Linked DNA regions of Homo sapiens. The protein of the gene in region 1 binds, or shares a complex with, the protein of each later gene. Each region holds a gene or a part of one and is shown on either strand. Other genes may lie near its edges.

Evidence for each region. The genes of interacting proteins can lie anywhere in the genome.
Region 2: CWC27 (region 1) and DHX16 share a complex: the UniProt entries of both Homo sapiens proteins name them as parts of the minor spliceosome.

Annotation. Positions count from the first base shown.
Region 1 is NC_000005.10:65,009,910-65,016,942, reverse strand, and holds part of CWC27 (spliceosome-associated protein CWC27 homolog), read right to left. Parts: intron 1-7,033. UniProt on the Homo sapiens protein: As part of the spliceosome, plays a role in pre-mRNA splicing. Probable inactive PPIase with no peptidyl-prolyl cis-trans isomerase activity. As a component of the minor spliceosome, involved in the splicing of U12-type introns in pre-mRNAs.
Region 2 is NC_000006.12:30,655,981-30,663,013, reverse strand, and holds part of DHX16 (pre-mRNA-splicing factor ATP-dependent RNA helicase DHX16), read left to right. Parts: coding exon 1-103; intron 104-271; coding exon 272-387; intron 388-582; exon of another isoform or gene 583-1,157; coding exon of another isoform or gene 1,158-1,258; intron 1,259-2,396; exon of another isoform or gene 2,397-2,444; intron 2,445-2,771; coding exon 2,772-2,982; intron 2,983-3,179; coding exon 3,180-3,278; intron 3,279-3,389; coding exon 3,390-3,542; intron 3,543-5,921; coding exon 5,922-6,062; intron 6,063-6,254; coding exon 6,255-6,417; intron 6,418-6,504; coding exon 6,505-6,623; intron 6,624-6,748; coding exon 6,749-6,816; intron 6,817-7,033. UniProt on the Homo sapiens protein: Required for pre-mRNA splicing as a component of the spliceosome. Contributes to pre-mRNA splicing after spliceosome formation and prior to the first transesterification reaction.

The DNA.
Region 1 (7,033 bases):
GTAGGATTAATACTTCTTATATGCCTGTTGTAACTTTCAGATGAAACCCAAATATGATGCTAATATCTTTTCCCCCATATAAGCAGAGATCTGGGTAGTAGGTAGGCAGTAGTGAAGATCCCTCACTCTTTTCTCTCTACAGCAGCACAAATGATGAGTGAAATTTACTTGTGTGGCAAACTCACATGGGTATACCTAGATTTTGAAGAATCCTAAAAAGATTTTAGGAGGGAAATAAAATGTCACAATTTTAGTGATACCATCATTACTAAGGGTTCAGTAGCTGCTGCTCACCAGGGCTGGCGAGTTGAGACTTATGTACCGTTTCTACCTTCTTTTGTCCCACCTGAGAAAGCTTACTGGAAAGCAATAAGTAGAAATGATATATATGGATGATCTAGAATCTACTTTAATTTACTGAATAAGTCACATTCACATTTTTATACTTCATTATTATTATTATTATTATTTTTGAGATGAGATCTTGCTATGTTGCCCCAGATGGTCTCGAACTCCTGGGATCAAGTGAACACCTTGCCTCAGCCTCCCAAGGAGCTGAGATTACAAGCGCATGCCACCATGCTTAGAACTATATTATTAATGATACATAATTTGTATCAAATTTCATAACTGATCTTAATACCTGAATATGCTATTTCACATGTGGAGTTGCTGACTTTTTACACTTCCATTCCTTTAGTAGACACCCTTAATTAGAAAATGTATTGTACAATAGTTGCAAAATCTAATTTTCTTGTGCGTTCAATTTCCTACAGCGTTTAGGTATTAGCTTCTGAAAGTAAGACAATCTCTAACTCCCAGAAAAAGGCTGACTGTTCGACAGCCATGGTATTAAGTAAACCACTAGAACCAGTTGGAAGAATAATTAAACCAGATTTATGCAGTTAATGATATCTCACCAAGGTCTAAATAATCAGTGACAACTCACTTCAGTAAATACACCTCTGAAAGCCAATTAACCAGTGATAGCCACATGCTTTTGAAAGTTGGCCTGTCGGCTGCAGACTGGCTCCAGTGAATATGCTTCTGAAAGCCAGCCAGTCAACAATAGTTTCTTTCAAATAATGGGGCTTCTGAGGGTGATAGCTGCCCCTAAACAATTCCTGACCCCAAAACACTATGTAAGATTTGCAGCCTGCTTTGCTTGGAGACACTGTGCCTAAAAGCACAGCTCCTCTTTACTTAAGTAATAAATTAAGCCTTTTTTTCTCCAGTCATTGAGAGGTAGCCTTTTTCTTCAACACTTCTTACAATCTTTGCTGCATCCCCCACAAAATGCACCCTTTAAAATTGTAATATTACCACTGATGAGAAGTAAGTGCAGAAGAATGGTAGGACTGTCCTGTTAAAGGTACTTTACCACACATCGGGGGCATCTAGACCCCTCTACTGCACTTCAGTACATGCTTAGCAGCAGCGTTCCAAGTGCTTACGGGCTGGCTGTGTTGATGTCTAAGCCAACACCAGTGTAGCTGGAATCATACGCCCTTTAAAACACTTTCATCAATACTCCTGGATTGATATGAGAAAACAAACTTACTGTCTTATTAATACCTCTTCATATACATATTCTTCTATTTAAAAAATTATCCTTTTCTCTGCCCAGAAATACAGATGGTTTTCTGTAATATCCATTTCTAGTAGGGATTCTCCATGTTTCAAAAATGACTTGATCAGAATTTGTCAATTAAGAATATAAAAAGGCACCTTTTTCCTTTCTATGCCATGAGAGAATCTTGCAACTATTGGATTTAGTCGGCTCTGGTATAAAAAATGAACTCTAGACACATGAATAACAGCATAAAGTCCACAAGAAGAAACAGATTTCCTTACAAATTTGAAAAAAAGCAGAGAGCCGTGAGTTAAAGGAGCTGTCTTTTTCAACTGTTTGTTTCATACACCACTGCACTAAGCAAGTCCAACATTTTGATTAATAACAAACCTAAACCCAGAGGAAAGAAAGGGCTATCAGCTTACAAACTACTTCAGCTTTAATATCATAATACTTAGCATGGCTAGTTACTTGGCAATAATATTTAACCTTTAATAGAAATACAAGCATAATCAAAATGCTTCATCCATTTATCTTTCAACATGCTTTGGTCACTTCATTGTGAAAAGCAAAACAAAACAGTTATTATGATTTTCAGCATAATAAATTCCTGACCTACTTGCCTCTATAAATCACAGACTGTACGAATTGAAAGCATGCCCGCACTTTACAGTCTCCTATGAGGATACACAATAAGATTTAGAATACGGACTCAATTTGAGTACAGGGGGTCTGATAGTTTACAATCATGTATGTCCCAATAACTCAATACTATCCACTCTGCGGCTCTTTATGGAATTGGCCCAAAAAAAGTAGTGAATTTTTTTGGAATTAATTACACACTGATCATTTACATATGAAAATTGTAGAGCTTGTTCACTTGAAGGCAAAGACAAAAATTTAGGTTTGATTAATAAAAAATTTCACATAGGCTCAGATTCTCAAATAACATTGACTTTATAGTGTGTTACAATATTATATATAGTGTATATATAAAATCTATGGTTATATATAATATATAGCTATATATTATACATATGGTATATAGTATATATAGTATATATACAGTATATACACTATATATAACTGATCTCTATGGTATATATTATATATATCATATATAATATGTAATCTATTATATATTGTAGTATATAGTATATATTATATATATAGTATGTTAAAATATGGAAGTTTACTATTTTCAGAGAGGTTGTGTTTGACAGGAAAGTGGTTTTTTTGTTATTGTTTTTGGTGTTTTTTTGGTATGGGGCTGTGTAAAATTACAAACAGAAGTAAACAACTGATTTTTCAAAAAGGACTAGACCTTGACTGACTTCACTAACTTCTTATCCAGTTTTTAAAGTTCTCCCACAATTGTGAAATAGACTAAGATACAATAGCTATTTGTATCAATGGGAAATATCAAGAGAGGAACTGATTCTCAGACACACAATAAGTAGTCTAATATAGAATTCCAACATTAGCAATTCATTTCCGATTTAAATGAATTTAAATTACTTATATAATATAAACAGCTATCTTTTTCATTGGGAAGTCTACAAACCTCTTCTTCCCACATCCAAGCCACCCTAACTTAGGAACTTATCACCCAACCCTACGATTGTTGCAGGTGTCCTAATTGTTGTACATCTGTACTATTTCCTTCCCAGATCCAAAGCTTAAAAAATAATATTTCTTCCACATTTCTTTTATAGCATTCTTTTGATCAGAAACTACTGGTTATCATATTAGACTGAAATAAATACCTCAGTCTACCCTTAAAAGTCCTCCAACAACTGGTGCTTCCTATCTCACCAACCTTATTTCATTTCTTTCATCAATTCTCCCCATTTTGTAATTGCCTGTTTACTTGATTGTGAACAGACTCAGTTGTTTGAGACAGTTTGAGTCTTGTTCACTGTTGCATTCCCGGTGCCAAACATGGTGATTTGTGTTGGGAATAAGGCCTTCAGACCCTTTGTACTGGTCAGGCCTGTTGGCTGGTACTAGAAGGCTTGCTAAGCTAAGAGTCAACTTCCTTTTGTGGGTAGAGACTGTCTTATATTTTGATGATAAACTCCCTAAAACATCTACCAGATTCTGCAGAAAGTCTCAGGCTCAGCATAAGTCTCTTTTCATTTCTCACAGCTCACCAAATACTGATAGTTGCTTTTCCACTCACTCATACTAGTGATTGCTAGTTTTTATTTCCTCAAAAGACTGCAGTGGGAACATGCCTTATGTTCTTATCCATCTCATATAGCACCTGATGTAGAACTAGAGAGAAGGGCCCCTTTTTTTATTTTTTATTTGTTTAAAGCAATGTTTCTCAAAGCATATTTCTAGAGCCCCTGCATCCGATGCAGGTTGCATGTTAAAATCACCAAGTAGCTTTAAAAACTATCAGTGCCAGGCTTCCAACTCCAAAGGTATTGATTTAATTGTTCTGGGATGGGGTCCCAGCATCAGTAACTTAAAAAAAATGTTCCTAGTTATTTTTAAATGCAGTCAAAGTAAAGGGCACAGAAATAAAGCTTAAGAGCTTTTATGCTTTCAGATTGATTGATTTCATTAGCCCTTTGTCCTTGCCCCTTCAGAGATGGAGAACAGCTGGTTCCTAATGACAAACTACTCAAAGAAACTCAAGTAGCCTCTGAGTCTATTATTTGAACTGAATAATCTCAAGTGCATTATTTATTTCTGATATATGTGATTTGAGGAAAAGGCAATGAGCTAGACTCAATTATTCATTCAAAAAACATCTGGGGGCTTTTAATGCATGCTGCCAACGCTGGACACTGGTAAAACAAAGCCAAATATGACCCAGGCCCTACTTCCATGAAGTAAACAATCTGTAAGAACATACAGACAGACACCACGATGTGGTAAACGCAGAGTTTGGAATTGCCTGCAAACTGTGAGACAACAAAAATAGCACTCGCTGATGCAGCACTCTACAAAAAGCTTTCCCATGTTGTCTGGTAGCATCTTTACAATAACTGAATGTGGTGGGGGGCAGGAAAAATATTATTATCACCCCTGTTTCATAGGCAGTCTCTGAGACTGAGGGTCGAGAAACTTGTAGCTGATAACTTCTTGACCAGATACTTTCTTCTATGTCTTCAGAGGTAACAAAACTTTCATCCTGTAAAGATGGATTTAACTTTGGGAATACATCAAAAGTCAATTCAGTGCTAGGTCTAGTAAGGAAGATAAGAAATCAGATAGAGTAGTGCTTATTTTGGAGTACAAAATTTAAAAAATGCAACCATAAAAAGACATGAATCCAGGTTGGACATTAAAGAAATTTCAAAAGAGAAATTCCAGAAATGTCTTGAGCAATGTGGGAGCATCTTTGGGAAAAGGCACAACTCTTTTAGGTGAATGCTTACTTACAAAAAAGAAAAAGCATTAATTCCCCCTATAAATTTTTATCTCCTTATTGCCTTTAATCAGTGCTATCTGAAATCTCAGTTCCAGTTTCTTCTAGTTCTTCCTAAAATAGGGATGCTAAGCAGGGACACCTCATTCAGCTGGAAGTCCAAAAGGAGCAGAACCAAGGGCCCACAGCCTGCCTCTGCAAGGGTGGATATCTGGCAATCTCCTCTCAGCCATCGAATTACTAAGGACTACCTTGTGGTCCATAATACTCAGGTCTTTTATATTTTTCAAAAATGCAAATGTAGCCATGAAAACTCTTCTGTTTTAAATGCTTTGGTGGCTCTCCATTGTCTACACAAGGAAACCCAAAATTCCCAATGTGGCTTCTATAATCTGGCTTTTGCTTCCCTCTCCAGCCTGTTACATCTCCTTCTCCCATCACATCTATGCTCCAGACATCCCAGTTCTTTGAAGTTTCCTGAACAAACGCCTGCACTCTCCTTCTTCCTCGCTGCCTCTATATACACTATACACTTCTGTCTCTCAGTTAGCTGAGTGTTATCTCCATCTTAGAAATGGTTCCTGATTCCTTTCCTGATCTGACCTGCTGTTTCTCCCCCAGGGTTAAGACCCTCTTCTGGTCTTGCAGAGAATCTTGAATATCTCTCTGGTTTAGTCTTCCTCATACTACAGTGTAACTGCTGTCTCCCTTACTAGGCTGCAGGTGCTCTTGAAGGTGGCGGCTCTGCTTTTTTGTTGAGATGGGGTTTTGCTATGTTGCCCAGGCTGGAATGCAGTGGCTATTCAAGTAATCATAGCACACTATAGCCCTGAACTGCTGGGCTCAAGTGATCCTCCTGCCTCTGCCTCCCAAGCAGCTGGGACTATAGACATGTGCCACCACACCTGGCTCTATGGTGGCTCTGTTATTCGCCTTTGTACCAATTGGCCTTTGTACTAGCCAGCAATGCTTGCCAAGAAGAATGCCCTCAATAAATGTGTGCTGAATAAATAAATGTTTCTGAGTAGCCAGCCACCTCCAAAACCTTTGACTAGAGTTCTGGTTTTGTTCACCTTGCTCCTTGATAGTATTAATACATAATTCCAAATCATTGAGCAATTATGTTTATAAACTCTTACATGATAATGCCAGAGAAAAGGGTAATAAGTTACTCGAACAGCTGAAACAAGGTATTTCTACTACTACTAACTTTATGATATGAAAATCCAACACTTATCTTTCTCAAATGGACCAGTTAAACTGCTTGAAGATTGACATCTGTCTAGTGTATGATTAGCCTTTGAGGTGGGAGAAAGTACATATATTGTCCTCGGACAGCCTTCCCCATGTGGGTTAAAAGACCTTGCCATTCTTTATGAAATTTTGCCATACACAAAATTTGTCTCTGTACTGTGTTAGTGTACTGTGTTGACAGCTTCTAATTTCTCTGTTAAGTTAGAATTCTAAGAAACCTAACAAAATAGCTCCTAGTTATTACTAAGATTGTCATTCTATGGGACTGTGGATTACAAACTTTAATGAATCTGATTTAAGTTTTTTAGGGGTAGGGTTGAAAGGAGACTTGTATTTAAAAAGCAAAACCAGCCTTTTTATTTTTAAAGAAAAATCTCAGCAAGACCAAACAATTTTCAAGTTTTGCCCACATCTGATCCTTTGAAAGGACCTGCTCTGTATCATAGGTGGGCTGCAGCATACTTTTGTCCACATCACTTCTCTGGGACGCCCTTCCGCCTCCTTCCCACTGGTGTATGTCCCTGTTTTTTTCAAAGCCCAGTTTAATTCCCATTTCCTCCTAAAATTCTTTTCTGACTGCCCTGGGCCTCAGGATTTGTTCCTGCCTTTGAATTTCTTTAACACCTTCTATGAAACCTCTGTGGTATGCACTCAGAAGCCCTGAGTTTGATTTGAGTTACATTCAGTCACTATTACTGGAGAAAGTCACATTGCTTCTCAGGCCTCTGTTTCCTCACCTGTGGAGAGGGGTGGTAATGTGCAACCTATTTACCTCACGTGGCCTGAGGATCAAACATCATGGATTTGAAAGGGCTCTGCAAATG
Region 2 (7,033 bases), on another chromosome or scaffold:
AAACAAGGGTATGAAGATTGCCTGCACCCAACCCCGGAGAGTGGCTGCCATGAGTGTGGCCGCCCGAGTGGCCCGGGAGATGGGTGTGAAGCTTGGGAATGAGGTGAGATTTCTAGGGAACCGGGGGGTAGAGTCTGGGGTCTGTGACTCAGTCTACAGTTCCCTCAGGTCCCTACAGCAGAAGTCTTGGTGCTGCCCCACTTCACCTTTCCCCAAGTTCCTTTCAGGGCACACCAGCCCACACTTGGTTGCTAATGGTTCCCTTGACCAGGTTGGCTACAGCATCCGCTTTGAGGACTGCACATCAGAGCGAACTGTCCTCCGCTACATGACAGATGGGATGCTTCTCCGGGAGTTCCTCTCTGAGCCTGACCTGGCGAGTTACAGGTATCTCTAATCTCTGGCCTTTCTCTCCCTTCTTCCCACCCAGCCAATTCAGCCATTGTCTTCTGATTAATCCACCCGTTCTTGAATCTTTGTGGTTCAAATGGTCCTTGAACTGACCTCCAGGTACCACGGAGATGGGGCTGGAGGACAGAAGAGATTGTAGAGAAAGCCTCTTCTTTCCCCATTCATCTCCAGGGTTTAGAAAACAACCAGGATAGCAGAGCATTGCTGCCGAGACTTGAAATACCGTGTGAAGACCATTTGAAAACACTTGGAATGCTCAGCTCAGAGGGAGAAACAGGAAGCATCCTGGTTCCCTCTAAATATGTGAAGGCTGTTACATGGAAAGAAGGATCAGATTGTTTTATGTGACCCTACACGACATAGCTAGGAGCCATGGGGAGGTTACAGGGAGACAGATTCCAACTCAATACCAATGGCTGAGTAACCCTCAGAGTGGTGGAGATTGCAGGGCCTGTCAGAGTGGTTGGACTCTGGGTCTTGGCCCTCCACACAAGTCTTGGGTAGCTTGGTCTGTGAATAATGAGCTCTTAGTGCTGGAAATGGCCAAGCAGGGGTTGGTTGAACATGTGTTGAGGGGGAAAAGGGATTCATGAATGTAATGGGGGTGGGGTCAGGCCAGCTGAACAATATGTGCCTTTTTGACTCTTCAGAGGCTGTGAATTTCTGGTCTTGGAAGATCACAGTGGAGCAATTGGACAGATAGGATTTTATCCTTCATATCCCTTGCAAAAGATCTCTAAGAACCCATGGAGAGCCAGCCAGCGCAAGAGTGTCTGATGCAGATGTTTTTGCCCATCGAGCCAGCCTGCTTTGTGGAATGGCTGGGGACTTCACCATCACAGTTAGGGTTAGGCACAAAGAGTTGAGGTCAGGGAGGTGGGTAGGGGAAGATGGGGATGAGTTCCTGGGACTTGGCTGCCACCCAGAAAAGCCAAAGAACAAAGAGAAAGAAGGTGTCATGCACATAACTGAGTTAGGAGGAAACCAAGGAGCATGCAGAGTCCTGTGAGAGTTGAGGTAGAAAGGCTTAACTTGCTCCTGTCTCCAAAAGAAGAAACAGTCAAGAATGATGCCAGCAGCAGTTGTCCCACAGGACACCAGGAGCTTCTAGGCTATTTGAATCACAGCAGCTCAGGTCTATTACCCCCAGTCAGCCTTGCTGGCCCACCCTTATTGAAAGGGACCCTGCCTTCCACTTTTTTTTTCCTTTAAAACGTATCAGCCGGGAGCGGTGGCTCACGCCTGTAATCCCAGCACTTTGGGAGGCAGAGGCAGGCGGATCACGAGGTAAGGAGATCAAGACCATCCTGGCTAACACGGTGAAACCCCGTCTCTACTAAAAAATATAAAAAATTAGCTGGGCGTGGTGGCGGGCACCTGTAGTCCCAGCTACTCAGGAGGCTGAGGCAGGAGAATGGCGTGAACGCAACCCAGGAGGCGGAGCTTGCGGTGAGCCGAGATCGTGCCACTGTACTCCAGCCTGGGCGACAGAGTGAGACTCTGTTTCAAAACTCCGTCTCTACTAAAAATACAAAAAATTAGCCAGGCACAGTGGCAGGCACCTGTAGTCCCAGCTACTTGGGAGGCTGAGGCAGGAGAATGGTGTGAACCCAGGAGGCGGAGCTTGCAGTGAGCTGAGATCATGCCACTACACTCCAGCCTGCAACAGAGCAAGACTGTCTCAAAAAAAAAATCCTTCCACTTTTTCTTTTTTCTTTTTTTAGATGGAGTCTCGCTCTGTCACCCAGGCTGGAGTGCAGTGGCACGATCTTGGCTCACTGCAACCTCTGCCTCCCAGGTTCAAGCGATTCTCCTGCCTCAGCCTCCCAAGTAGCTGGGACTACAGGCGTCTACCACCACATCTGGCTAATTTTTTTTGTATTTTTAGAAGAGACGGGGTTTCACTGTATTGGCCAGACTGGTCTCGAACTCCTGACCTTGTGATCCACCTGCCTCGGCCTCCCAAGGTGCTGGGATTACAGGCGTGAGCTACCACCATGCCCAGCCTAAAACATATCCTTCAACTTTTTCTAGTAAGAGCAGCTGCTGAGTCTAAGCAGACTCTTGACTGAACTAGAGGGTATGGCTAACTTGTCCTGGCCTCAGTGTGCAGCCTCTACATCTTGTCTCCTATTATCTGCTGAGGCTGGGATAGGTTGCAGATCATGGGGCCCTGGCCTTCTCTGACTTTCTGTTGCTCTACATAAGTGGGATGGCTGACTTCTCCTTAGAGCCCCCTCCGTCAACAGTCATTCTTGAACTCTTTGTGTCCATTACTCCCCTCTCATCCAGTTAACTCTGGTGTCTGATACTGCATTGCCTAGCGCTCTTCCCTCATTGCTCTCCTATTCCCTCCCCAGCGTGGTGATGGTGGATGAGGCACACGAAAGGACCCTACACACAGACATTCTCTTTGGATTGATCAAGGATGTTGCTCGCTTCCGACCTGAGCTCAAGGTCCTGGTGGCTTCAGCCACAATGGACACTGCCCGTTTTTCCACCTTCTTTGATGACGCCCCTGTGTTTCGAATCCCCGGACGCAGGTTTCCTGTGGACATCTTCTACACCAAGGTGCCCCCTCAGGGAGGATGGGCTTAAGTCTGTGGCAGAAAAGCTGAGGCCTTTGGAGAAGGTTATCCTGTGGAGGGAAAGATGGAATGGAAGGTTCAAAGGGGAACTAGGATAAAGTGTATGTTGAATTGGGAGGAGAGGAAAGGTTTGCCTAAGCAGGTGGCCCTCCTGTGACCCCATCTCTTTCTGCTCTCCAGGCTCCAGAGGCTGACTACTTGGAAGCTTGTGTAGTATCTGTGTTGCAGATCCATGTGACCCAGCCCCCTGGGGATATCCTGGTGTTCCTGACAGGACAGGTGCCTGACATGGTGGGGAGAGGGGATGATGTATCCCAGGGGAAGACAGGGCCGGCATGTTGGCCTTCTGTGACTCTGGGACCCCTGCTGCTCTCCCTACCCTCTATCCAGGAGGAGATTGAGGCTGCCTGTGAGATGCTCCAGGATCGCTGCCGCCGCCTGGGCTCCAAAATCCGGGAGCTCCTGGTGCTGCCCATTTATGCCAATCTGCCCTCTGACATGCAGGCCCGTATCTTCCAGCCCACACCACCTGGGGCACGAAAGGTCAGTTGGAGAAACCCACACTCTTCACCCCTATGCTTCCCACAACTAGTAGTGAAAAAGCTGTGTGCCTGCCCCATGCAAGGTGAGTCCTGCGCACTGCTGCACACAGCTGAGGAGCAGCCAGTCCCTTGTTCCTGGGACTGAAGAGAGGAGAAATATGGTGTGAACCAAGAGAGAGCCAAATATGTGATCTGGAAAGTATGCACAGTAGATTCAGTGGAGAAGGGAAGTCCTTGATGTGCTAAGAGGTGGGATTTGATATGGACCTTTAAGAGAAATGTCTGAGGTCAGGTGCGGTGGCTCACGCCTGTAATCCCAGGACTTTCGGAGGCTGAGGTGGGCGGATCACTTGAGGTCAGTAGTTCGAAACCAGGCTGCCTAACGTGGTGAAACCCTGCCTCCACTGAAAATACAAAAATCAGCAGGGCATGGTGGCGTGCGCCTATAATCCCACCTGTTTAGGAGGCTGAGTCATGAGAATCGCTTGAACCCAGGAGGAGGAGGTTGCAGTGAGCTGAGATTGTGCCACTGCACTCCAGCCTGGGTGACAATGCGAGACTCCATCTCAAAAAAGAAAAATGGCTGAGAAGTCATCAGAGGAAGGCCCAAGGTATGTTTGAGGTCAGAGTGTGAGCTAGTAGGCTTAGTGGGAGGTTCATGTGGTGAAGGAGTAGGAGACAAGGCTAAAAACAATTTGGGGCTAAGATTAGGGAGGGCCTTTGATGACAGGAAAGTTTGGACTTTATTTATTTTTCTTTTTTGAGACAGAGTCTCGCTCTGTTGCCCAGGCTGGAGTGCAGTGGCAAGATCTCGGCTCACTGCAGCCTCCACCTCCCAGGCTCAAGTGATTCTTGTGCCTCAGCTTCCCAAGTAGCTGGGATTACAGGTGTGTACCACCACCCCAAGCTAATTTTTTTTTTTTTTTTTTTGAGATGGAGTCTCACTCTGTCGCCCAGGCTGGAGTGCAGTGGCACCAACTCTGCTCACTGCAACCTCTGCCTCACAGGTTCAAGCGATTCTCCTGTCTCAGCCCCCCAGTAGCTGGGATTACAGGTGCCCTCCACCACGCCTGGCCAATTTTTTGTATTTTTAGTAGAGATGAGGTTTCGCTATTTTGGCCAGGTTGGTCTCAAACTCCTGACCTCAGGTGATCTGCCCACCTTGGCCTCCCAAAGTGCTGGGATTATAGGCGTGAGCCACCATGCCTGGCCAACACCCAGCTAATTTTTAGTAGAGATGGGGTTTCGCCATGTTGGCCAGGCTGGTCTTGAACTCCTGGACTCAAGTGATCCGCCTGCCTTGGCCTCTCAAAGTGCTGGGTTACAGGCATGAGCCACTGTGCTTGGCGAAGTTTGGACTTTAGACAGCTGAGTAGCAGTCAAAGGATTTTGAGCAGAGATATAACTTTCATTCAACAAATATTTAATGAGTTCCTTCTGTGTGTCAGGTACACAGGGGTTGATGATACAGTGATGAACAAAACAAAGTCCTTAGCCTAACAAACTTGCACTTGTGGTCTATCGGGGAAGCAGTGGATGCATAAATACATATTGTCAATTTGTGGCCAGTGCTATGAAGAGATACAAGGCAGCATAGTAGGATGGAACTTGACTCTGTGGGGTGGGAGTGAGGACTGGCATGAAGGTATTTTCCTTGGGGTGTAGGGAGGGCCTCTTCAGTAAGGGGAAAGTGGAATAGAGACCCAAACCAGGTGAGGGAGGGAGCCAGGCTGATATCTGGGAGAAGAGTATGCCAGACAGAGGGAATAGCTGATGCAAATGATCCAGTGAGGAGTGCACTTACTTGGGCAGAGCAAAGCAGTGTGTGGGAGGAGTGAGGGAGGTGGTGGAGTGCTAGCAGATGAGGTCAGAAAGGCAGCTGGGGTAGGTGATCCAGGCTTTTAAGGGGCTTGGATTGAATTCTAGAGTAGGATAGGAAGCCACTGAAGGATGGGGAGTGATGTGACAGGTTTGTATTTTAAAAGGACCATCCTGGATGCCATGTGACAGAGGCTAGGAGCAGAAGCAGGGATACACGTTAGGAGGCTCTTACAGGAAGTGTTGTGTGAAGACGAAAGCGGTGATGGGGAGGATCGGGCAGGAACTTGAACACCCCCATTTCCCATCTCTGAAAAAAAAAAAAAACCCTAAATCCTCTTCTCCATTTCCTTTCCTCCTATGGCCCTGCTGACTCCCAGCCCCCACTTCCCTGTCCCCTGTCTTCTGGCCTTGTCCCCTGCTCCTGACCTTGGATACTACTAATTCCCTCAGCTCCTGCCCCTTACTGCAACTGCTTCACTACTCCTAACTTTCCAAGATTACTTTTTCTGGGTAACTAGGTAGGTGGGGTCACTGGGTGACCCCATATCCTATCACTCAGGTGGTTGTGGCAACGAACATTGCTGAGACATCACTCACCATTGAGGGCATCATTTATGTGCTGGATCCAGGGTTCTGTAAGCAGAAGAGCTACAACCCCCGCACAGGCATGGAATCGCTCACTGTCACACCCTGCAGCAAGGTCAGCCTGGGGATGCATGGGAGTGGGGGAGGTGGAGTTGGCCCACAGAGAAGGTCCAACTCAGAAGCAGGGTGGGGGCTTCCTAGGGAACCGGGATGAGCAGTTTGCATCCTTCCAGATTTCTTGCATAAATACTGCCTTTTTCTTTTCCCTGACCAAATTGTCAGCCAGCCTGTTCCCCTTTCTTTCCAGGCCTCAGCCAATCAGCGAGCTGGCAGGGCAGGTCGGGTGGCTGCAGGGAAGTGCTTCCGCCTGTATACCGCCTGGGCCTATCAGCACGAGCTTGAGGAAACCACAGTGCCTGAGATCCAGAGGACCAGCTTGGGCAATGTCGTGTTGCTGCTCAAGAGCTTAGGTGATTGGGCTACCTGAGAGAGGAGGGAGGGGCTGGAGTCACTGTCCTTTGAAGGGACTCTGTTCCATCCATCACACCTCTTTCTAGGGATCCATGACCTAATGCACTTTGATTTCCTGGACCCTCCACCATATGAGACACTGCTGCTGGCTTTGGAGCAGCTGTATGCTCTGGGAGCCCTCAACCACCTTGGGGAGCTCACCACGGTGAGTCGGGGGACAGCATGGGTGGAGGCAGGATGATAGGGGTCAGGATGGCTCCAGGGACCCCTGTAGTAGTAGCGGGAAACCTGAGGGAGGACTGGGCTCAACTCTCTCTCTCTTCTCCTTAGTCTGGTCGAAAGATGGCAGAGCTGCCGGTGGACCCCATGCTGTCCAAAATGATCTTAGCCTCTGAGAAGTAAGCCCTCGCCTCCACCTGGGCCCCCAGCACACAAACAGGCCAGGCCTCCTCTGTCTCCAGGGTCCCCTTTGTCTGTCTTTTTCTGTTCATCATACTATCCCTTAACACATAATAAAGTATTAGATAACTCTGATTGCCCCCTTTTGAGGCCCACAAGGGTAAGACACTTGATCCTATCCTTGATTCCACTGCGCCCGGCCCCTTGAGGAACTTA